Linked DNA regions of Homo sapiens. The protein of the gene in region 1 interacts with the protein of each later gene in a pairwise test. Each region holds a gene or a part of one and is shown in the gene's direction. Other genes may lie near its edges. The genes, in order: CYB5R2 and ZNF778.

The links.
Region 2: the proteins of CYB5R2 (region 1) and ZNF778 interact in binary tests that used the Homo sapiens proteins (3 or more experiments, as listed by UniProt).

Annotation. Positions count from the first base shown.
Region 1 is NC_000011.10:7,660,571-7,671,905, reverse strand, and holds the end of CYB5R2 (NADH-cytochrome b5 reductase 2), read left to right. Parts: intron 1-2,174; coding exon 2,175-2,281; intron 2,282-2,571; coding exon 2,572-2,701; intron 2,702-3,344; coding exon 3,345-3,428; intron 3,429-4,092; coding exon 4,093-4,178; intron 4,179-4,601; exon of another isoform or gene 4,602-5,294; coding exon of another isoform or gene 5,295-5,351; intron 5,352-5,355; coding exon 5,356-5,455; coding exon of another isoform or gene 5,456-5,519; intron 5,520-5,966; coding exon of another isoform or gene 5,967-6,066; exon of another isoform or gene 6,067-6,079; intron 6,080-6,359; coding exon 6,360-6,532; 3' UTR 6,533-6,802; downstream 6,803-11,335. UniProt on the Homo sapiens protein: NADH-cytochrome b5 reductases are involved in desaturation and elongation of fatty acids, cholesterol biosynthesis, drug metabolism, and, in erythrocyte, methemoglobin reduction.
Region 2 is NC_000016.10:89,224,124-89,236,561, forward strand, and holds part of ZNF778 (zinc finger protein 778), read left to right. Parts: intron 1-595; coding exon 596-679; intron 680-1,431; coding exon 1,432-1,508; intron 1,509-2,570; coding exon 2,571-4,439; 3' UTR 4,440-12,438. UniProt on the Homo sapiens protein: May be involved in transcriptional regulation.

The DNA of each region.
Region 1 (11,335 bases):
CTCAGACCCACATAAGGAGGGACCAGCCCTACGAGTTGCAGATTCCAGCCCTAGGAGTCCTAGAGTTGAGTTATCCCATTTCTAATCTGTAACACCACTAGATAGCTGAGTCAGTCTTAGTGCAGTAGAAAACTGCTAGAATCAGGGATTCAGAGCAGCTTTGTATAATCTGCTAGTGCTGCTTGCCTGCCTGGTGGATCCTACTCCGTGGCCTATTTGTCTTATATGCACAGGCCAAAACCTTGACCTCAGCTCTATCAGGTGGTGAGATTACACTCTAGCCAGCTCGCTGGGCCCCTGAGCCTCCTTGCTGTTCCCTCACTCCATCTCTATGCACGAGAGCTCAGTGTTGTGCGTGCCGTCTCTCAGCTCCCTGCTCGGCCTGTCAGGCAGGTCCTGTTGGCAGGAAGCCTAAAAGAATGAAAAACTTTGAGATAGAGAATTGCTTAGAAACTGCCTTGACCCACTATCTCCTCAGCCTTGGCCTAGGCCGTGCAAAGTTAGTGGGACAAGGTAATGTAGAGGCCTCTGGGAGAGTCTAATATGAGGCCTCAGAGTTCGCTGCTTCGTCCCAGCCCAGTGGAAGTGAAGCAAGTTAGAGATGGGGCTTGAAGGACCAGCCAGGGAGCCCCATTTGCCCTGGGGACACCCTCAGGCCAGGCCTAGGTGGCTGCATATGAAAGAGCCTTTCCAGGTTTCCAGTTTCAGGTTCTCAGAAGGAAGCTAGGTGTCTCACTTACTCCTGGCTATCCCTGGTGCCCAGAGGGACCATGACCAGAGTCATTGAGCCTGTTCTGAGCCCAGAGTGTTGGCACCTCAAAGACTTGGCTCATCCCCTTGAATCAGCTTCAGGGACCAGCCCCTCTAGTGCCTACTCTGCCTGCTTTTTTCTCCTCCTGCCTCCTCCTCCTCCCTGCACCTTAGGTCTTGGTTTCTATCCATCTCTCTGTTCCATCTTCCTTGTCTCGACTAATTTCCCGTATGTAGTCCACTCAGTTTCTGAGCGAGTAGAAACTGAGGGAGTAAACTGACTACATACATACAGGAAGTTAGTCAAGGGTTAGGGTTACAAAACTTTCTCTTGCCTCTAGCTCTTAGTATCTCTTGATTGCACTCCTGTCCCTGCCACTAATTGCCTTAGTAATTTGAGTCTCACATTTTGGATCCAACAGGTCGTAGCTGCCCAGTGTGTCATCTGACAGTGGGATGTAGTCATGATCCATAGGTCTCTGGCCACACCTGGTTTATTGAATTCTACCCAGGAAGGGCAGAGTTACATGGTTAAAAACTTCACTGCTACTCCTCACAAGGCCATAGGCCAGGAAGACATGATATTGTTGTTTCATTTGCTCCATGGGTACCCAAATCCTAGGGCCCTGTAGTATCTGTGAGCCCAGGCCTGCTCTGTGCCTAGTACCAGGATACAGATGGAGTAGTTGTAATTTATTCACAGATCTCAGTGATACATCCAGTTTAGGAAGAAAGGAGTTTGTGAAGGCCACATATTTTTCTTGAATAGACAAATATTCCTTTCTAATTTTTTTTTTTTTTTTGAGACAGGGTCTCATTCTGTCGTCCAGGCTGGAATGCAGTGGCACAGTCTCAGCTCACTGCAGCCTCGACCTCCTGGGCTCAGGTGATGCTCCCACCTCAGCCTCCCAAGTAGCTGAGACTGTGGGTGTGCACCACCACACCTGGCTAATTTTTTGTATTTTTTTGTAGAGATGGGGTTTCGCCATCTTGCCCAGGCTGGTCTCGAACTCCTGAGCTCAAGCAATCCACCCGCCTCTGGGCTGGGATTACAGGCGTGAGCTACCATGTCTGACCCCTTTCTGTAATTTTTAATACTCACTCTCCAACTTTAATGATCTTTTCCTGCTCCAAAAAGCAGTTACACTAAGATCACAGGTGGGCAGACATATCACCCCCATTTTACAGATGAAGAGACCAAAACCCAGAGAGGTGAAGTGACTTGCCTAGGGTAGCACAGGGAGGCAGGGCAGGCCTAGGATCCGGGCATCCCATATTTGGGTTCCTTCCCTGCTCTCTTCTTCCCACCCCTCTTAACATTGTGCCCCCAGTATTTGCTCCCTTCACTGAAGCTCAGTCCTTTATTCCTGGGCCTTATTTAAGCTAAATATGCTTTGACTCAGTGCTTGATGCCTTTTCTATAGGTAACTATGTCCAGCTCTTGGCAAAAATCGATAATGAATTGGTGGTCAGGGCTTACACCCCTGTCTCCAGTGATGATGACAGAGGCTTTGTGGACCTAATTATAAAGGTAAATAGTGCCCACCATATCTGGCTAGCTCGTGCTTCCAAGCCTACTGAGGGTGGTGGGGTGGAGGGGCAGTGCTTTTTCTCTGAGGGCACATATGCCCTAGGCAGGGCTTTCCAGCAGTGAAGCTACAGTTAACCTTGTGGCAGCTTCATCTTCAGGGATTGCGTACAACAATTCAGAGAGGAGAACACTTTCTCTGCAAAGCTTCCAGCAGTAAATGCATTTTCTAGTTGTACGTGGCTGTGGCATTGTGTCTGGGAATGTGAAAGCAGTGCTGCCTTGCTTTTCAGATCTACTTCAAAAATGTACACCCCCAATATCCTGAAGGTGGGAAGATGACTCAGTATTTGGAGAACATGAAAATCGGGGAGACCATCTTTTTTCGAGGGCCAAGGGGACGCTTGTTTTACCATGGGCCAGGTACTGGAGGGGTTAATACTTGGGCTCCCAGCTGGGAGGAAGATTCCTGCAATGGTTCCATTGTTCTCGTACACTCCTCAGATTTGAGTCACATGGGGTTGTCCTTAGTCTTCATTCATTCACACACAATGCATAATGATCACACTTGTTACACATTCACACACCCACTTCATGAGGTTGTCAGCTTTTGTAAGGTAGGGGAATGACTTGGTGTTTCCTCGTCATTGTATCAAAATCTCCAGCACAATGCCTGATACATAAATGGTGCCTGCTAATACTGAAAAATGGATGGAGGGAGTCCATGCTCCTTGGTTACTCACATAGCCATTGTTTACTCACTGGTTCACCTCCGTGAGTGAGAATGCTCTTTGAGTCTCTGTGTTAACTTCAGCTTGCCCCTCTTTTTCCTCAGAACAGAAGGCCCGGCGATTCCCCGACCAAGCCCAGGCTCTATTCCCACTTTGTGCACTGGAGCACCAGGGCTAGCTGAGGAGACTGCCCTGGCCTGCTTCTCCAGCTTAAAATGGTGCAGACAGTCCCTTAGCTGGACGTGCCTCCTGGGAGTCCTAAGGAATGTCAGTGATCTTTTGCAGTCTCTTTAGGCAAGAACTGCAGAGGTCATAAGCATTCTCTGTGTTTCCAGGGAATCTTGGAATCAGACCAGACCAGACGAGTGAGCCTAAAAAAACACTGGCCGATCACCTGGGAATGATTGCTGGGGGCACAGGTAAGAGGCTTCTAGGGGCTCCATCCAGAGAGTGAGCCCCGAGACCCATTCTGACTTGGGAGTCATTTGATCCTCTAAGGGACAACATGAGAGATTTCGCCTCCAGCTGTAGAAGGTGGGAACGATGAACCAGTGACAGGTCTTGAAACTGACCCTGTGTACCCTGCTTCCCCTAACCAATATGGTGGCTGCTCAGGAGCCTTGTGGGGACCTTTCAGGTCAGGCTTGGGGGCAAGCTGGGCAGGCCCACCCATGCTGTCCCAGGGGCTCCTAGATCCAGTTCAAGCCTGACTCTCCCCATCCCTTGAAAATGACTGCCTGAAGAAAGAGAGCAGTCTTTGAAGGAGACATACAATGTGCCAGGCACTGTAATAGGCATTCTTAAAACGATCACATTTACCCGTCATTGTTTGATGAATGAGGACACTGAAGAACTTAGAGTGTTCTTTCCATCTTGCCATATGAAAATGAGAAAGACTACCTGACTTACTGTTGCATTAGAAAGGAAAACCAAAATGAAGGGCTGTTTCCTGCTTTGAGTTTTGGGGACAGAAGTGAGAAAAGGATAACTTGGGCTGGGGGAAGGTATGAAGCTTGCTGCAGGTCAGGGACTGTGGGCTTCAGAGACAGGGAGAAAGCTGGCTGCTCGCTCACTGTGTTCCAGGCATCACACCCATGTTGCAGCTCATTCGCCACATCACCAAGGACCCCAGTGACAGGACCAGGATGTCCCTCATCTTTGCCAACCAGGTCAGTTCCTGCTGAGCTTGCAGTGGTAGGATGGAATGTTTGCTGAGCTGGGCTCTTGTTTTCATTTCTCCTGCATTGACTGAGCTCATGCTGCTTGGGTGCCTGCATCTGTGGGAGGGCTTAGTGGGATCAACAGGGCTGCTGGCAGCTGGAGAAGCTGAGTCCAGGCCTGCTTTTTGCATGTATTTAACTCTTTTGTGTCTCCTCAGCCAGCCCTAAGCACTAAGCATTCCTTTTTTCCTTAAGATGTACTGCTGTATTTTTGCTAAGTGTAAAATCACAGATGTCCTCAGTGGACACTTCAGAAAATACAGAATATAAATATTTACTTACTTTTTAAATCTTTTTTCTATATATGTTATATATTTGTAATTTATATATGCTTTTTTTTTTTCACTCAGCATTACCACAACAGGCATTTTCTTCTCTTTAAGATGCTTTATAAATATTTTCATCATAGTTTTTATCAAGTTGCACTATAATTTACTAACTTCCACATTCAGGCTGTTTTCAGTTCTAAATAATATGGTGATGAATAATTGTGCCTACGCTTGATTACTTTTAGATTATTTTCTAAAACAGAATCCCAGAAGTGGAATGACTGGGATGAGAATCATGAGGAGTTTTAAGATCCAGGTCTTCTGTGCAGTTATCTTTGAGGCTGTGACAGGTTATTTTTGGCTTTGGTTCCCTTTCCCCCAAATGGGGCTCCAGACTGTTTTCCTCTCCTTCACATATCCAGTGCTGTTCTATCACAGGACTTTCTGAGCCCATTACATTTCTTCCAGAAGATCCTGGGCCTGCACTGAGCTTGTTCCAGTTAGGTTTGCTGTGCTAGAGCTCAGTGTAGATGTAGGAGGCAGGGCTGGAGCTCCGAGTGAAGCCATCCTGGCCAGCGCTTGGCTAAGGTCCTTCTAGTTGGAGGCGGTCACTGCAGCTCCATGGGAACCTACATCCCATGGAGGTTCTTCATCCACATGGAGGAACTTCATCCACAAAACAAAGGGTTTGAGCTTCAGGAGCAGCAGCAGAACTCTTGTTTGCCGTGGGAGTTGGCAGCGAGCACTCCAGCTGGAGTGGTGGCAGCTTTGGCCAGGAGTATGCTGACCGGTGTAGTCAGTCCAGGGAACAAGAGGATGGCCCTGGAGGGGCTTTTTCAGTGTTGCTTCTTTTCTAGACAGAGGAGGATATCTTGGTCAGAAAAGAGCTTGAAGAAATTGCCAGGACTCACCCAGACCAGTTCAACCTGTGGTACACCCTGGACAGGCCTCCCATTGGTACGACATCCATTGCCCTCACTCACCATGGGTCAGCACCAACCCTTGACCACTTTGAGGACTGGTCTCTGTCTCTTTGTTTTGTTTTAGTTTTGTAGGACCAGATGTGGGGGTTAAGCCTGGGGCTCTGGCTCCAGATGGGAAATGTGAGAAATTGAGGGAGAAAGGATTTGGGATGGCCTGCTTTTAAGGGCAATCGAGAGCAGGTGTCTAATACATCAGCAGCACCTCACGCTGCACTGAACATCAAAAGGGACACTGCCCCTGTCCACTGTGAACACCCACCCATTCCACACAGCCATCACATACACATCTAATATGGGCACTGACCCCTTCACCACTCACCCTTCTGCTTACGGCCACCACACCCCTTACCGCCCACCTCACCTGGACATGCTGAGCCCCCAGACAGCTGCTGCAGCCCAGACAGCATCCCAGCAACCACTGTGCACAGAGCACCCCACAGGCGCGCCTCTCACACTGCTCCCGGCTGTACCTGCTTGTCATACAGGTCCCTGGTCGGCAGAGGGCGCTACCCTACTGAGCAATTCTGCGCAGTTCCACTAACACCAGGCCACACCCTGCCGGACAACTCCAGCTGGCTGTACTGATTCACACACCTCGGTATACCTCGTTGTGTTCTCCTTCCTCGTCAATGCTGACAGCTGACAGACAGCAGCAGGGCTTCAGGGTCCCTGCAGTGAGCCTGGGACCTGGGGTGATTGCTGCAGAGGGCTGTTTACTAGTTCTGAGGCTTTTTGCAGGGAGCAGTAGTACAGACTTCTAAGCCTTTGTAGAGCAGCTTGTCACCTCCTCCCTGGCTGAGGGTGGGTGTGCAGGCGGCCTGGGATCAGGAACTCCACCTGGCATCGCTCAGCTTGCTCCTGCATCTCCTTCATTTCAGGCTGGAAGTACAGCTCAGGCTTCGTTACTGCCGACATGATCAAGGAGCACCTTCCTCCTCCAGCGAAGTCCACGCTCATCCTGGTGTGTGGCCCGCCACCACTAATCCAGACGGCGGCTCACCCTAACCTGGAGAAGCTGGGTTATACCCAGGACATGATTTTCACCTACTAACACCTCCACGTGCTCAGCAATTTTGCATGTCCCTTTTCATCTGTTTCAGAGTAAGTTCAATTTCACCACGGTAAACTGGGATGTTTTCAAAAGTGCCTTGCCATGTACCTTCGCGCACACACTGGTTCTCCTCTTTTGGGTGTGGGCCTAACAAAAAGGGCTCAAGGGGCTGGAGACTGGCTGCTGGGGCCTCCTTGCTTGGAGGCTGGAAAGAGCTCCATTTCAGTATCTTTCTCCGTGGTTTTGTGAAATAAACTCAAGTACAAAGCAGACAGCCCATGAAGTGTGGCTCTGTGGGGGACGTGCTAGGCAGTCAGGAGGCCGTGGCCTGGCCTGTGAGTTGGCTTCTGCATGCCCATGGGGGTCACAACTGGCAAGTGTCGGGGCAGTTCCTAAAAAACTCCAAGTGGGGTCACATCAACTCTCAAGAATCTCTCCATGGCACTAGGGGTCATGGTAGGAGTGGTTACACACAGAAACTTCTCAACTTTCAAAGTCAGGTTCCAGAAACTGCCTTAAATCCTTTGTATCATGAAACCCAAACGAGGGTCTGTCGGGGTGGGGGGGAGGGACAGCCAACCTCACCCATCCCCCTGTTCACTGTCTCCTTGGGGATCCTTCACTGCTTTCAAGGGAGACCCCACTCTGGCCACCCCCATCTCTCCAGGACACACTCCAGGGCCTGGCTCCCAAGGCCCTTCTTGGTTTGCTCCTGCCGACTTTATCAGATTTTTCTTTCCCTGGGCCCCCAACTCCGACCCCATTCTCTCACCTACTGGTTCTCAACTGAGGGTGATTTTGCTGCTCAGGGAACAGATAACAAAGTCCAAAGACATGTTGGTTGTCAGCTACAGAAGGGGTGCATCTACCCTCTATTAGCATTTAGAGGGTAGAGACCAAGGATGCTGCTAAACATCTTAAAACCCACAGGAGAGCCTCCATCACAGAGTATTTCCATCACAGAGTATTACGCAGCCCAAAGTGACAGCAGCACAGAGGCCAGGAAACCCTGCTCTAGCCTACCAACTTTTGGCAATCCCTAGGTTGTACTGGGCTGTTTCAAGTCTGTCTACCTGGAATGCCCTTCCTCTCCGGCATACCTGGGAAAATATGATTCATGTTTCCAAATTCAAGTGTCATCTCTTCCATGGAACCTATTCAGACTCCTTCCCCAAACCCCCATTAAGAATGACAACATGCAAGGGAGGAGCCAAGACGGCCGAATAGGAACAGCTCCGGTCTACAGCTCCCAGCGTGAGCGACGCAGAAGACGGTGATTTCTGCATTTCCATCTGAGGTACCGGGTTCATCTCACTAGGGAGTGCCAGACAGTGGGTGTAGGTCAGTGGGTGCGCGCACCGTGTGCGAGCCGAAGCAGGGCAAGGCATTGCCTCACTTGGGAAGCACAAGGGGTCAGGGAGTTCCCTTTCCGAGTCAAAGAAAGGGGTGACGGACGCACCTGGAAAATCGGGTCACTCCCACCAGAATACTGCGCTTTTCCGACGGGCTTAAAAAACGGCGCACCATGAGATTATATCCCGCACCTGGCTGGGAGGGTCATACGCCCAGGGAGTCTCGCTGATTGCTAGCACAGCAGTCTGAGATCAAACTGCAAGGCAGCAGCGAGGCTGGGGGAGGGGCGCCCGCCATTACCCAGGCTTGCTTAGGTAAACAAAGCAGCCGGGAAGCTCGAACTGGGTGGAGCCCACCACAGCTCAAGGAGGCCTGCCTGCCTCTGTAGGCTCCACCTCTGGGGGCAGGGAACAGACAAACAAAAAGACAGAAGTAACTTCTACAGACTTAAATGTCCCTGTCTGACAGCTTTGAAGAGAGCAGTGGTTCTCCCAGCTCGCAGCTGCAGATCTGAGAACGGGCAGACTGCCTCCTCAAGTGGGTCCCTGACCACTGACCCCTGAGCAGCCTAACTGGGAGGCACCCCCCAGCAGGGGCACACCGACACCTCACACAGCAGGGTATTCCAACAGACCTGCAGCTGAGGGTCCTGTCTGTTAGAAGGAAAACTAACAAACAGAAAGGACATCCACACCAAAAACCCATCTGTACATCACCATCATCAAAGACCAAAAGTAGATAAAACCACAAAGATGGGGAAAAAACAGAACAGAAAAACTGGAAACTCTAAAAAGCAGAGCGCCTCTCCTCCTCCAAAGGAATGCAGCTCCTCACCAACAACAGAACAAAGCTGGATGGAGAATGACTTTGACGAGCTGAGAGAAGAAGGCTTCAGACGATCAAATTACTCTGAGCTACGGGAGGACATTCAAACCAAAGGCAAAGAAGTTGAAAACTTTGAAAAAAATTTAGAAGAATGTATAACTAGAATAACCAATACAGAGAAGTGCTTAAAGGAGCTGATGGAGCTGAAAACCAAGGCTTGAGAACTACGTGAAGAATGCAGAAGCCTCAGGAGCCGATGCGATCAACTGGAAGAAAGGGTATCAGTGATGGAAGATGAAATAAAAGAAATGAAGCGAGAAGGGAAGTTTAGAGAAAAAAGAATAAAAAGAAATGAACAAAGCCTCCAAGAAATATGGGACTATGTGAAAAGACCAAATCTATGTCTGATTGGTGGACCTGAATGTGATGGGGAGAATGGAACCAAGTTGGAGAACACTCTGCAGGATATTATCCAGGAGAACTTCCCCAATCTAGCAAGGCAGGCCAACGTTCAGATTCAGGAAATACAGAGAACGCCAGAAAGATACTCCTCGAGAAGAGCAACTCCAAGACACATAATTGTCAGATTCACCAAAGTTGAAACGAAGGAAAAAATGTTAAGGGCAGCCAGAGAGAAAGGTCGGGTTACCCTCAAAGGGAAGCCCATCAGACTAACAGCGGATCTCTCAGCAGAAACCCTACAAGCCAGAAGAGAGTGGGGGCCAATATTCAACATTCTTAAAGAAAAGAATTTTCAACCCAGAATTTCACATCCAGCCAAACTAAGCTTCATAAGTGAAGGAGAAATAAAACACTTTACAGACAAGCAAATGCTGAGAGATTTTGTCACCACTAGGCCTGCCCTAAAAGAGCTCCTGAAGGAAGTGCTAAACATGGAAAGGAACAACCGGTACCAGTCGCTGCAAAATCATGCCACAATGTAAAGACCATCAAGACTAGGAAGAAACTGCATCAACTAACGAGCAAAATAACCAGCTAACATCATAATGACAGGATCAAATTCACACATAACAATATTAACTTTAAATGTAAATGGACTAAATGCTCCAATTAAAAGACACAGACTGGCAAACTGGATAAAGAGTCAAGACCCATCAGTGTGCTGTATTCAGGAAACCCATCTCACGTGCAGAGACACACATAGGCTCAAAATAAAAGGATGGAGGAAGATCTACCAAGCAAATGGAAAACAAAAAAAGGCAGGGGTTGCAACCCTAGTCTCTGATAAAACAGACTTTAAACCAACAAAGATCAAAAGAGACAAAGAAGGCCATTACATAATGGTAAAGGGATCAATTCAACAAGAGGAGCTAACTATCCTAAATATATATGCACCCAATACAGGAGCACCCAGATTCATAAAGCAAGTCCTGAGTGACCTACAAAGAGACTTAGACTCCCACGCATTAATAATGGGAGACTTTAACACCCCACTGTCAACATTAGACAGATAAACGAGACAAAGTCAACAAAGGATACGCAGGAATTGAACTCAGCTCTGCACCAAGTGGACCTAATAGACATCTACAGAACTCTCCACCCCAAATCAAGAGAATATACATATTTTTCAGCACCACACCACACCTATTCCAAAATTGACCACATAGTTGGAAGTAAAGCTCTCCTCAGCAAATGTAAAAGAACAGAAATTATAACAAACTATCTCTCAGACCACAGTGCAATCAAACTAGAACTCAGGATTAAGAATCTCACTCAAAACCACCCGACTGCATGGAAACTGAACAACCTGCTCCTGAATGACTACTTGGAACATAACGAAATGAAGGCAGAAATAAAGATGTTCTTTGAAACCAACGAGAACAGAGACACAACATACCAGAATCTCTGGGACACATTCAAAGCAGTGTGTAGAGGGAAATTTATAGCACTAAATGCCCACAAGAGAAAGCAGGAAAGATCCAAAATTGACACCCTGACATCACAATTAAAAGAACTAGAAAAGCAAGAGCAAACATATTCAAAAGCTAGCAGAAGGCAAGAAATAACTAAAATCAGAGCAGAACTGAAGGAAATAGAGACACAAAAAACCCTTCAAAAAATTAATGAATCCAGGAGCTGGTTTTTTGAAAGGATTAACAAAATTGATAGACTGCTAGCAAAACTAATAAAGAAAAAAAGAGAGAAGAATCAAATAGACACAATAAAAAATGATACAGGGGATATCACCACCGATCCCACAGAAATACAAACTACCATCAGAGCATACTACAAACACCTCTACGCAAATAAACTAGAAAATCTAGAAGAAATGGATAAATTCCTCGACACATACACTCTCCCAACACTAAACCAGGAAGAAGTTGAATCTCTGAATGCACCAATAACAGGATCTGAAATTGTGGCAATAATCAATAGCTTACCAACCAAAAAGAGTCCAGGACCAGATGGATTCACAGCCGAATTCTACCAGAGGTACAAGGAGGAACTGGTACCATTCCTTCTGAAACTATTCCAATCAATAGAAAAAGAGGGAATCCTCCCTAACTCATTTTATGAGGCCAGCATCATTCTGATACCAAAACCTGGCAGAGACACAACAAAAAAAGAGAATTTTAGACCAATATCCTTGATGAACATTGATGC
Region 2 (12,438 bases), on another chromosome or scaffold:
GTGCAGTGGCTCAGGGCTGTAATCCCAGCACTCTAGGAGGCCAGGCGCAGTGGCTCAGGGCTGTAATCCCAGCACTCTGGGAGGCAGGGTGTGGTGGCCACGCCTGTAATCCCAGCACTCTGGGATGCTGGACGCAGTGGCTCATGCCTGTAATCCCAGCACTTTGGGAGGCTGGGCGCAGTGGCTCACGCCTGTAATCCGAGCACTCTGGGACGCCAGACGCAGTGGCTCATGCCTGTAATCCTAGCACTTTTGAGAGGCCGGGGTGGGCGGATCACAAGGTCAGGAGATTGAGACCATTCTGACCAACACGGTGAAACCCCATCTCTACTAAAAATACAAAAAACTAGCCAGGCGTGGTGGCGGGCACCTATAGTCCCAGCTACTTAGGAGGCTGAGGCAAGAGAATCACTTGAACCCAGGAGGCAGACGTTGCAGTGAGCCGAGATTGCACCACTGCACTCCAGCCTGGGCAACAGCGCGAGACGCTGTCTCAAAAAATAATAAAAAAAAGGAAATGTAGTTCCTGTTCACGGGTAGGTTTGTCATCCCCTGCCTGAGCCTCTTCCATCGATGTCTCTTTCCCTGTGTACAGGACATCACCTGTTCCAACCCAGTGTGATCTATTGGCTGGAGCAGGAAGAGGAGTTGAGGGCAGGGCGGAGAGCAGTTCTCCAAGGTAAGTGTGAAGAGCACGCCTGGTCGATGTCAAGTTTAGCAGCTGTGGGAGGATCCTGAGTGTCAAGTTTAGCGGCTATGGAAGGATTGTGTCAAGTTAAGCGGCTGTGGGAGGATCCTGAGTGTCGAGTTTAGCGGCTGTGGAAGAATCCTGAGTGCACGTTTTAAGATGCATTCTGGCACAGAACATGAGGCTGTTGGCTCTGGGTATCCTGAGCTTCCCGTAATTCCTTATTTTCCATCTGATCTGGATTTTCCCTTTCTTGTGATCTCATAAAAAACCTGCTGTTTTGTTCTTTCAGTTTGTGGGTTTTTTTTTTTTTTTTTTTTTTGAGACGGAGTCTTGCTCTGTTGCCCAGGCTGGAGTGCAGTGGCACAATCTTGGCTCACTGCAAACTCTGCCTCCTGGGTTCACTCAGTTCTTCTGCCTCAGCCTCCTGAGTAGCTGGGATTACAGGTGCGTGCTGCCACGCCTGGCCAAGTTTGTGTTTTGAATGTATGCCCTTTGTCCAGCTCTTTCCTGCTTTCTTTCATTGATAATATTGTTTCTGTTCACCTCACATTTCTTCTTTATGGACCAAATGTATTTTAAAATCTTCTAAATTATGACTCCCAGTTCCTATGATTCCAAATTTTACACATAGCCAAACTCCTTAAATCTATCTTTGCTTTGTTTTTTTTTCTGCCATGTCTTATATGAAAACAAATACCAATGAGTTTGATCGTTTTTAGGTCATTCTTCTTTCTTTTCAGAATGGCGACTTAAAACCAAAGGGCCAGCACTTCGGCAGGATAGATCTTGGTTCAGAGCATCAAATGAGACACAGACGGTAAGATTAACAAGAGAGATTTTTTTATTTATCACACTCATAAAAGATTGGGAATTCCACTATAGAAAATGAGCAAAATTGAGAGAATTTAGAGAAGCAGGATTCACTCAGGCAGGGGTTGTCTGTAGAGAACACTCTGAATGTGCGGAATTTGGGAGGACCTCATCCTGTCTTGAAACTTGGTGCTTCAGACACACATCAGCGCACACATGACGAGGTCTTGAGATCGCAGAGCTGTTTTGTGCGCACAGACTTTTCGAAGTTAGAGCAGATGGTGCAGGATTCTTTTTTTTTTTTTTGAGATGAAGTCTCACTCCATCACCAGGCTGGAGCGCAGTGGCACGATCTTGGCTCACTGCAACCTCCGCCTCCTGGATTCAAGTGATTGTCCTGCCTCAGCCTCCCAAGTAGCTGGAACTAGAGGCATGTGCCACCATGCCCAGCTAATTTGTGTATTTTTAGTAGAGACGGGGTTTCACCATGTTGGCCAGGATGGTCTCGATCTCTTGACTTTGTGATCCTCCCACCTCAGCCTCCCAAAGTACTGGGATTACAGGCGTGAGCCACTGTGCCTGGCCGATTCTTTTTTTTGACATGGAGTTTTGCTCTTGTTGCCCAGGCTGGAATGCAACGGCGCAATCTTAGCTCGCCGCAACCTCTGCCTCCCTGGTTCAAGCCATTCTTCTGCCTCAGCCTCCTGAGTAGCTGGGATTACAGGCATGCGCCACCATGCCCAGTTAATTTTGTATTTTTAATAGAGACGGGGTTTCTCCATGTTGGTCAGGCTGGTCTTGAACTCCCGACCTCAGGTGATCTGCCCGCCTCGGCCTCCCAAAGTTCTGGGATTACAGGCATGAGCTGCTGCGCCCGTCCTGATGGCACAGGATTCTTGCAGTGGGGCTCCTCATTTGACTTGAAAGACATCTACAGGGCAGGAGCTGCTTGCATGTTATGAAAATGGCAAAAATCGTAATCATCATCGTCATGCTCTGTCTTCAGCTGGGTGAGATCTATGAATCAGCCTCAGTAACCCCCTGACCACCACTCATTCTTCACCAACAGGCAAGAAGCCACAATGGAGGGCAGCTCTGTGACCGCACGCAGTGTGGAGAAGCTTTCAGTGAACACTCAGGCCTCAGCACACACGTGAGAACTCAAAATACAGGAGACAGTTGTGTGTCTAATCATTATGAAAGGGACTTTTTTATTCCATGCCAGAAAACCTTGTTCAAAATTGGAGAGCAGTTTTCCGTGTTGGGTCAGTGTGGAAAAGCCTTCAGCTCTACTCCAAATGTTGTTTCCCAGCAAGCATGCACTCGGGACAGATCTCTTGACTACAGCAGCTGTGGGGAAGTGTTCCTTAATCAGTCATACCTTCAGGCACGTGCGGGAAGTCACAACGGAGAAGAAACATGGAAATGGAAGCCGTGTGGGAAAGCTCTAACTCACTCCATGGGCTGCGCCACACCTGTTGAAATGCATGCCGTCAGGAATCCCCACGTATGTAGGGAATGTGGGAAGGCCTTTAGGTACACTGCCTACCTTACTGGTCGCGTGCAAGTCCACCCTGGGGAAAAGCCCTGTGAATTGGAAGAATGTGGAAAAGCCTCCCCTGTTTCTTCCAGCCTAACTCAACATGTAAGAATTCATGCTGCAGAGAAACCCTGTGAATGTAAAGAATGCGGAAAAGCCTTCACTGGACTCTCAGGTCTTTCTAAACACGTCCAAACAGACCCTGGACAGAAGCCCTATGAATGTAAGGACTGTGGGAAAGCCTGCGGTGGGTTTTATCTACTGAATGAGCATGGAAAAACTCACACGAGGGAGAAGCCCTTTGCATGTGTGGTTTGCGGAAAATATTTTAGAAATTCCTCATGCCTTAATAATCATGTTCGAATTCACACTGGAATAAAACCCTATACATGCAGCTACTGTGGGAAGGCCTTCACTGTGCGCTGTGGCCTTACTAGACACGTACGAACACACACGGGCGAGAAGCCATACACGTGTAAGGACTGCGGGAAAGCCTTCTGTACATCCTCGGGCCTTACTGAGCATGTAAGGACTCACACTGGAGAGAAACCATATGAATGTAAAGATTGTGGGAAATCCTTCACTGTTTCTTCAAGCCTGACTGAGCACGCGAGAATCCATACCGGAGAGAAACCCTACGAATGTAAGCAGTGTGGCAAAGCCTTCACAGGGCGCTCAGGCCTCACTAAACACATGCGGACACACACCGGGGAGAAGCCCTATGAATGTAAGGACTGTGGGAAAGCCTACAATAGGGTTTATCTACTGAATGAGCATGTGAAAACTCACACAGAGGAGAAGCCCTTTATATGTACGGTATGCAGGAAATCCTTCAGAAATTCCTCGTGCCTGAATAAGCACATTCAGATTCACACTGGAATAAAACCTTATGAATGTAAGGACTGTGGGAAAACATTCACTGTTTCTTCGAGCCTAACCGAGCACATACGAACTCACACTGGAGAGAAACCTTATGAATGTAAAGTATGCGGAAAGGCCTTCACCACATCCTCACACCTTATCGTGCACATAAGAACCCACACCGGTGAGAAACCCTACATATGTAAGGAGTGTGGGAAAGCCTTTGCTTCCTCCTCACACCTTATCGAACACAGAAGGACTCACACAGGAGAGAAACCTTACATATGTAACGAGTGTGGGAAAGCCTTCCGTGCCTCCTCTCACCTGCATAAACATGGAAGAATTCACACTGGGCAGAAACCCTATAAATGTAAGGAATGTGGGAAAGCATACAATAGGTTTTATCTACTAAAAGAACATTTAAAAACTTACACTGAAGAGCAGGTTTTTGTATGTAAGGACTGTGGAAAATCTTTTAAGAATTCCTCATGCCTTAACCATCACACTCAAATTCACACTGATGAGAAACCTTTCTAATGTAAAGAATGTGGGGAAGCTGTCAGCTACACTCATTCACGTTGAAGACATGAAAGACCTCTCGTTCTCCAGATGTCCATGACTTGAGGAATGTGGCTAGGCAATCAGCATCTCATCACAACCCGGCAGGCAGGAACTCACCCTGGAGCCCTATGCAGCAGACACAGAGAAAGCCCTCAGTGTTCTCTAAGGTCTTGCTGAATATGGATGGTATCCAGTAGAGAGAACTCTATTGATGTGTGATATGCAGCAGCATTGTTGCTGTTCTGCTCAGTACTTTGATGATCCCTTGTGATCTCACAATGAAGAAAAACCTTAGGAGGGTGAGAATTGTTGGGAAGTCATTTTTTACATTACATCTTTCCTCACCCTTTAGTAAACGTGGTGATTGACACTTGAAGTGTTGTGAATGTATGGAAGATAGCAGTCGCTTCCCTGTGTTCTAAAACCTTGTGGGCTAACTTGAGACATGTCTTTCTGGGGGTTCTGTAGACGTATTTTGAATCTTTATGATGCTGCACTGATCATTCTTGGAGTGAGGACTCTGTTCCCTGTAGAAATCCTCCAGTCTGGTTGCTACAGTGTCCACGTCGCAGCCTGGCTAACAGTAGGCCTTGAGGACTCAGATGTGATCCTGTGTGAGCAGTGTAGGCTCTGGTTGGTTAGTCTTGAGGATCCAGATGTGATTCTTTGAGCAGCGTAGGCTCTGGTTGGTTAGTCTTGAGGATCCAGATGTGATTCTGTGAGCAGTGTAAGCTCTGGTTGGTTAGTCTTCAGGATCCAGATGTGATCTTGTGTGAGCACTGTAGGCTCTGGTTGGTTAGTCTTGAGGATCCAGATGTGATTCTGTGAGCAGTGTAGGCTCTGGTTGGTTAGTCTTGAGGATGCAGATGTGATTCTGTGTGAGCAGCGTAGGCTCTGGTTGGTTAGTCTTGAGGATCCAGATGTGATTCTGTGAGCAGCATAGGCTCTGGTTGGTTAGTCTTGAGGATCCAGATGTGATTCTGTGAGCAGCGTAGGCTCTGGTTGGTTAGTCTTGAGGATCCAGATGTGATTCTGTGAGCAGCGTAGGCTCTGCTTGGTTAGTCTTGAGGATCCAGATGTGATCCTGCGTGAGCAGCGTAGGCTCTGGTTGGTTAGTCTTGAGGATCCAGATGTGATCCTGTGTGAGCAGCGTAGGCTCTGGTTGGTTAGTCTTGAGGATCCAGATGTGATTCTGTGAGCAGTGTAGGCTCTGGTTGGTTAGTCTTAGGTATCCAGATGTGATCCTGTGTGAGCAGCGTAGGCTCTGGTTGGTTAGTCTTGAGGATCCAGATGTGATCCTGTGTGAGCAGCGTAGGCTCTGGTTGGTTAGTGTTGAGGATCCAGATGTGATTCTGTGAGCAGTGTAGGCTCTGGTTGGTTAGTCTTGAGGATCCAGATGTGATCCTGTGTGAGCAGTGTAGGCTCTGGTTGGTTAGTCTTAAGTATCCAGATGGGATCCTGTATGAGCAGCGTAGGCTCTGGTTGGTTAGTCATGCTCTTAGGCATGACCCACCTGTAGGGTCCCACACTGGCCAATGTTGGGGCATAACACAGCTCTACATTTTATGAAAATGCCCTTGTTCCTCTCCCATACCTGATCCCTTCAGATAAAACACCAGGGTGCAAGGAGGGGCAGAGTGGAGAGGGGCGAGGTCTGTACCCTGAGATGCCCCCGTTTCATGGCCGTGGAGGGAGAACCACCACCCCCCACGTGGGGAGGAGGGAATTCCTGTACCTTAGGCAGTGCCGGACGGGTGAGAGCCCTGAGTGTCCTTGTTGACCTCCAGATCCTCTTCACAGCATGCAGAGCGGTCCTGGCAGCTGCTGCAATCTGGCACTCCTGGGGCAGCTGCTGCGATCCGGCACTGATGAGGCAGCTGCTGTGATCCGGCATTCATGGGGCAGCTGCTGCGACCCGGCACTCCTGGGGCAGCTGCTGCTTGTGTGTGTGCTGCTCCTTTGTGTACCATGAAAACAGACCAGGGACACGGCTGGTCCTGATGTTCTGTGGCGCTTGGCCCTGTCACTGGCGCTTCTTGGATGAGGCCCTTAAACACACACAGTGGCAGAGCAAGACTTCATGTGAGTGACACGAATGTGTGTCCTCTGGCTGCAGCAATCCTGGGTTATGTTTTTTGTGGCCATCAGGGCAGCAGCTGCTTGGTGACTGTTTCTGTGGTGTTGAATCCCCACGGTATAAAGGTAATCTACAACGAGGTGAACAATAAATCCTGGATGGACAGACCCGTGCACCTTCATATTACGTGTTTGAAATCCTGGATGGACAGACCCGTCCACCTTCATGTCACGTGTTTGAAATTCTGGATGGACAGACCCATGCACCTTCATGTTACGTGTTTAAAATTCTGGATGGACAGACCCGTGCACCTTCCTGTCACATGTTTGAAATCCTGGATGGACAGACCTGTGCACCTTCATGTCACGTGTTTGAAATTCTGGATGGACAGAGCCATGCACCTTCATGTTACGTGTTTGTTGTGGAGAGGAGTGGGTTGTGCCATGTTTCTCTTGTGGGATTGAGTGTGGCTATTTAGCTCATCTGTTGCCACCTTTAATTGTTGGCATTGACACTAAAGGTCATCAGATTAGCGGGAACCAGCTTGTGGGGTTGTAGCGGCTCCTGGACTGGTCTCAGGTGACATCCTGATTGGCTGAAATAAGTCCTGCAGGTCTCTGCTAGAACTGACTCACAGTTGCCTGAGTCCAGAACTTGTGGGTCACAGGTGACGCCAGGACTGCATCATCCTGGTGCTCGGACTCCTAGTGACAGCATCCTGAGCAGGCGGTAGCCCAGACACCACCCTGCCTGATATGCCCACTGTTGGTGGAGACATCACCCCAGCACAGACCTCAATTAAGACGACTACCCCTCCGACGACTCCCCCTCCCTTCACTGGAGGTGACTTCACGCACTTCTTCAGAACCTCCTCAGCAGCGATGCCCATGGACTGGGGTTCCTAAGGCACAAATTTGATATTTGAGATTCTGTGATGAGCTGAGCTTGCTGTCCGCTAACCCGTGATCCTGGTGTAATCTCAACCAAAACCCACAGCCCTGCACCCCTTGCCTGTAGGAAAATCTGGTAGGAGTTAGTAGTGTCTGTGAAGTCTCAATAATTGATACCAAAATGTTTTGTTTCACCAGGAGGTGCCCGCCTCCTATCAGCCTCTGGGAAGGCCACTGTCTCCCCAGTGCCTTCTCCTCCGCTGCAGCTTTCCATCTCATCTCCTTACTCCCTTGACTTGGCTTCACACAGAGCCTCTTCTTTACACATACTAACTGTTTGCTTCATACCCTCCTGCAGCAGAACTACAGACCTGCCATCCTGATAATTGTCAAACTCATCCCTTTATCACCTTTATAACTCCTCAAGGATATTATCATTGGACCCCCAACATTTCAAAGTGATTTTCTTGAGTAATACCATATGCTGTGATGTGGATGTGATTGGTTTGCCCTCATCAAGTCTCATGTTGAGCTTTGACCCTCAGTGTGGCAGTGCTGGGAGGGGGCCTGGTGGGGGTTTGGGTCATGGGGGCACCCTCCTGAATGGTTGGATACCATTCATTCTTGCTGTGTCAAGCCTGGATTGGTTTGTAGGGGAATGCACTAGTTACTGGGAGCATGGTTGTGATAAAGCCAAGCCGTCCCTCGGGTTTGGCTCACTGCCCTTGACCTTCTCTGCCCTGTTTGACACAGCAAATAGTCCTCACCAGAAGCAGGTCAGATGCCAGTGCTATGCTTGCACAGCCTGCTGAACCATGAGCCAAATAAGCCTCTTTCTAAGTTACCCACAGCCTCAGATATGTAGCAACACAGACAGACTAAGACACCAAGCATGATGGAAAACTGGGTTATGGGCAGGACTGCAAGTACTGGTTAGGCAGATACCTGTATTTCTCTTCCTAACTCTCAGAACGTGTTCTGTGTCACTTAGGGCAACTTATGCCCTCCTGTGTGAAAATCTCCACTCCCAATGTCTGAGGGTTCCTCAGAGTAAGATAAAATATTAAAGGACCAATTGTATTAATTATGTTTTTTTTTTTTTTGTTAGGGTACATTTTCATCCTGGGGTCTTGCTGTGGGGGCTAGACCGTCCCTCTCAGGCTAGATCATTCCTAAAGATGGTAAACAACTTGCTGGAAACATGCACTGCATATACAAATCAACTCACTGCATATGCACATCAACTCACTGCATATGCAACTCAACTCACACCGTATATGCAACTCAACTCACACCGTGTATGCAAATCAACTCGCACTGCGTATGCAACTCAACTCGCACTGCGTATGCAACTCAACTCGCACTGCGTATGCGAATCCACTCACTGCCTATGCAACTCAGCTCGCTCTGCGTATGCAACTGAGCTCGCTCTGCGTATGCAACCCAGCTCGCTCTGCGTATGCAACTCAAGTCGCACTGCGTATGCAACTCAGCTCGCTCTGCGTATGCAACTCAGCTCGCACTGCGTATGCAACTCAGCTCGCACTGCGTATGCAAGTCAGCTCGCTCTGCGTATGCAACTCAGCTCGCTCTGCGTATGCAACTCAGCTCGCACTGCGTATGCAACTCAGCTCGCACTGCGTATGCAACTCAGCTCGCTCTGCGTATGCAACTCAGCTCGCTCTGCGTATGCAACTCAGCTCGCTCTGCGTATGCAACTCAGCTCGCACTGCGTATGCAACTCAGCTCGCTCTGCGTATGCAACTCAGCTCGCTCTGCGTATGCAACTCAGCTCGCACTGCGTATGCAACTCGCACTGCGTATGCAACTCAACTCGCACTGCGTATGCAACTCAACTCGCACTGCGTATGCAACTCAACTCGCACTGCGTGTGCAACTCAACTCGCACTGCGTGTGCAACTCAACTCACACTGCGTATGCAACTCAGCTTGCTCTGTGTATGCAACTCAACTCGCACTGCGTATGCAAATCAACTCACTGCATATGCAACTCAGCTCGCACTGCATATGCAACGCAACTCAACTCATACTGCATATGCAACTCAACTCACACTGTATGCAACTCAGCTCGCTCTGCATATGCAATTCAACTCGCACTGCGTATGCAAATCAACTTACTGCATATGCAACTCAACTCACTGCGTATGCAACTCAACTCGCACTGCATATGCAACTCAACTCGCACTGCGTATGCAACTCAACTCGCACTGCGTATGCAACTCAGCTCGCACTGCGTATGCAACTCAACTGTTGCAAGTACTTATTTCCGGCCACTTCCTTTTTCTAACTACCACACCAAGCCAGTATTTCTCCTCCCTGAAGTCAGCCCAGGATGAGGCACTAGACAGCAGGACATGCTGTATGCCCTTGGGCCTGCTGGAAGTATGCAGACTAGCCAGCCCCAGACTTCATCCTGCCCTGTCCTGCCTTTCCTGTGAAAACCCTGTGGCCTCTGCCTCCCCTGGCTCTGACTTCTGCCTCCTGCCCAGCTCTGCAGCTCCCCTTGGGCCCTGCCTGGAGTGATGTGCCGCCTTCTCTTGACACTGTGAGTGATAAACTTTCCATGTCAGGAACCTGTGTGTGTCACTCACTCACCTTGACGAGTCCGCGTCTAGGCCCCACCAGTGGTGTGGTTTTCCTCATAGTCTCTCTACCTAAGCACATGTCTGTGACAAGGTCTTACCCAGCCCAGGGATTCTTGAACTATCTGTAGGAACTGCCATGTTGACTCCTGGGCAGTTTTATTCTTTCTCTCTACTCGTTCAACCTTCTTAGGGAGTGACGTTTTTTCCAAAGTGGTTGTGAAACAGCATCTCCTTGGGGTGTTGGTTTGCACTTCTCTTCATTACTGATAGTATGAACATGGTTTTGCTTACGCTGGCTATTTTCCTTTTTGGATGAAGTACCTGGTCTTGTTTTTTCCTGGTTTGTTTGATCTTTGTTCTTTTTTAGAAATAGTGAGGCTGTTGTGAGGTGAGTCACCACTTGTGACTTAGAAGATTGCAGTGGTTTCCACTTCACCTGTTTCCACTTTTGTGATGATGCCTTAAGGAAAAAGATTGTGCCAGGTGTGGTGGCTCAGGCCTGTAATCCCAACACTTTGGGAGGCCGAGGTGGGTGGATCACAAGGTCAGGAGATCAAGACCATCCTGGCCAACATGGTGAAACGCCATCTCTACTAAAAATAGAAAAATTGGCTAGATGTGGTGGTGCACGCCTGTAATCCCAGCTCCTTGGGAGGCTGAGGCAGGAGAATTGCTTGAAGATGGGAAGCACAGATTGCAGTGAACCGAGATCGCGCCACTGCACTCCAGCCTGGCAACAGAGTGAGACTCTGTCTCAAAAAAAAAGGAAAAATATTTCTTAATTTTGGCATACTCAAATTTATACAACCTTTCCTTTATCTTCATCAGAAATTTCTTTTCTCCTAAGGCCTTAAATATGCTGTACTATTTTGGCTTCCACAGTTTCTATGTTTTATCCCAAGTTGCTTAATCCATTTGGAGTTGATTTTTGTTGACCGTATCTGTAGAGTGTAATGTCATTTTTCCCACTATGGACATAAAAATTTTTGCAAGGCCTCTTTTTTTTAATGAAGAAAAGAGGTTTATTTTGTTCACAATTCTGAAGGCCTGGAGGGTCCCAGAAGCTTGGCACCAGCACCCACTAGGCTCCAGATCGGGGCCTCATGCTGACTTCCGTTTTCACACAACGAGTGGGAAACAGGTGTCCTAACACTGTGAGAGAAAAAATCCGAAAGTTTAGTTTTTCCCATTCGCTTGCCCTGGCCTCCAGGCAGTCCTGCAGCAGCAAACACATCATCAGCCTTAGGAGCTGGCCTGTGAGGTTGACCACTCTGTAGGTGGACGAGCCTCGCCCGAGAAGAGACATGAGCAGTTCTGCGTAGGCTTTAAGACAGAATCAACATGGAAAGCACGACCCACATGGTTTCAATAGAACTTGCCTCCTGAACCTGACTAGGTTACTCGCCTGATGAACCAGTATCTCCATCACCCGTGGGACTGACAGACCCAGAGTGTCATAACCTAAAATTCAGAAGTGTAGACTATAATCTTAAATTATTCAGCATATGTGCAACAGCCTTGGGGAGCAGTGTTATGATACCAAATGGCTAACATTCATGACCTCAGTATCCTGGAAGAAAAGGAGAAAGTGTGATGTAGTAAAACCACTTGAAAAAATAATGATGAAACATTTCTCATATTTGGTGTAAGATAAAAACTTAAGTTTGAAGAGGTTCCATGAGCCCCAGACAGGATAAACCTAAAGAAAACCAAGCCCAGGCCGGGGGCGGTGGCTCACACCTGTAATCCCAGCACTTTGGGAGGCCGAGGTGGGCGGATCACAAGGTCAGGAGATCATGACCATCCTGGCCAACACAGTGAAACCTCGTCTCTAGTAAAAAAAAAAAAAAAAAAGAAAAATACAAAAATTTAGTTGGGCGTGGTGGCGGGCGACTGCAGTCCCAGCTACTGGGGAGGCTGAGGCAGGAGAATGGCGTGAACCCGGGAGGCAGAGCATGCAGTGAGCTGAGATTGCACCACTGCACTCCAGCCTGGGCAACAGAGCGAGACTCTGTCTCAAAAAAGAAGAAAGAAAAGAAAACCAAGCCCCTGCCACCACGAAGCTGCCGAAAGCTACAGAGTGAAAGTCTTGGAAGGAGGCTGAGAAAGTGGACACAGTGCTTCCAGAAGAACAATTCAATTGACCGGGTTTCTCGTCGGAAGCCATAGAGGCCAACAGGAAATGTAGGAGCATTTTTCAAGTTCTGAAATAAAAAGAAATGCCAACCCAGATTGCTATATCCAACAAAATATCCTTTAGGAATGAAACAGAAGTAACGATGAGGCAATACAAAGAATTGCCTGCAGACCTGGTTTAAATAAATGGTTACAGAAAACTCTTAAGGAAACCTGGAACAAAGGAAAAGCAATAGAAGAGTAAATACCTGAGTAAATAGATCAGAT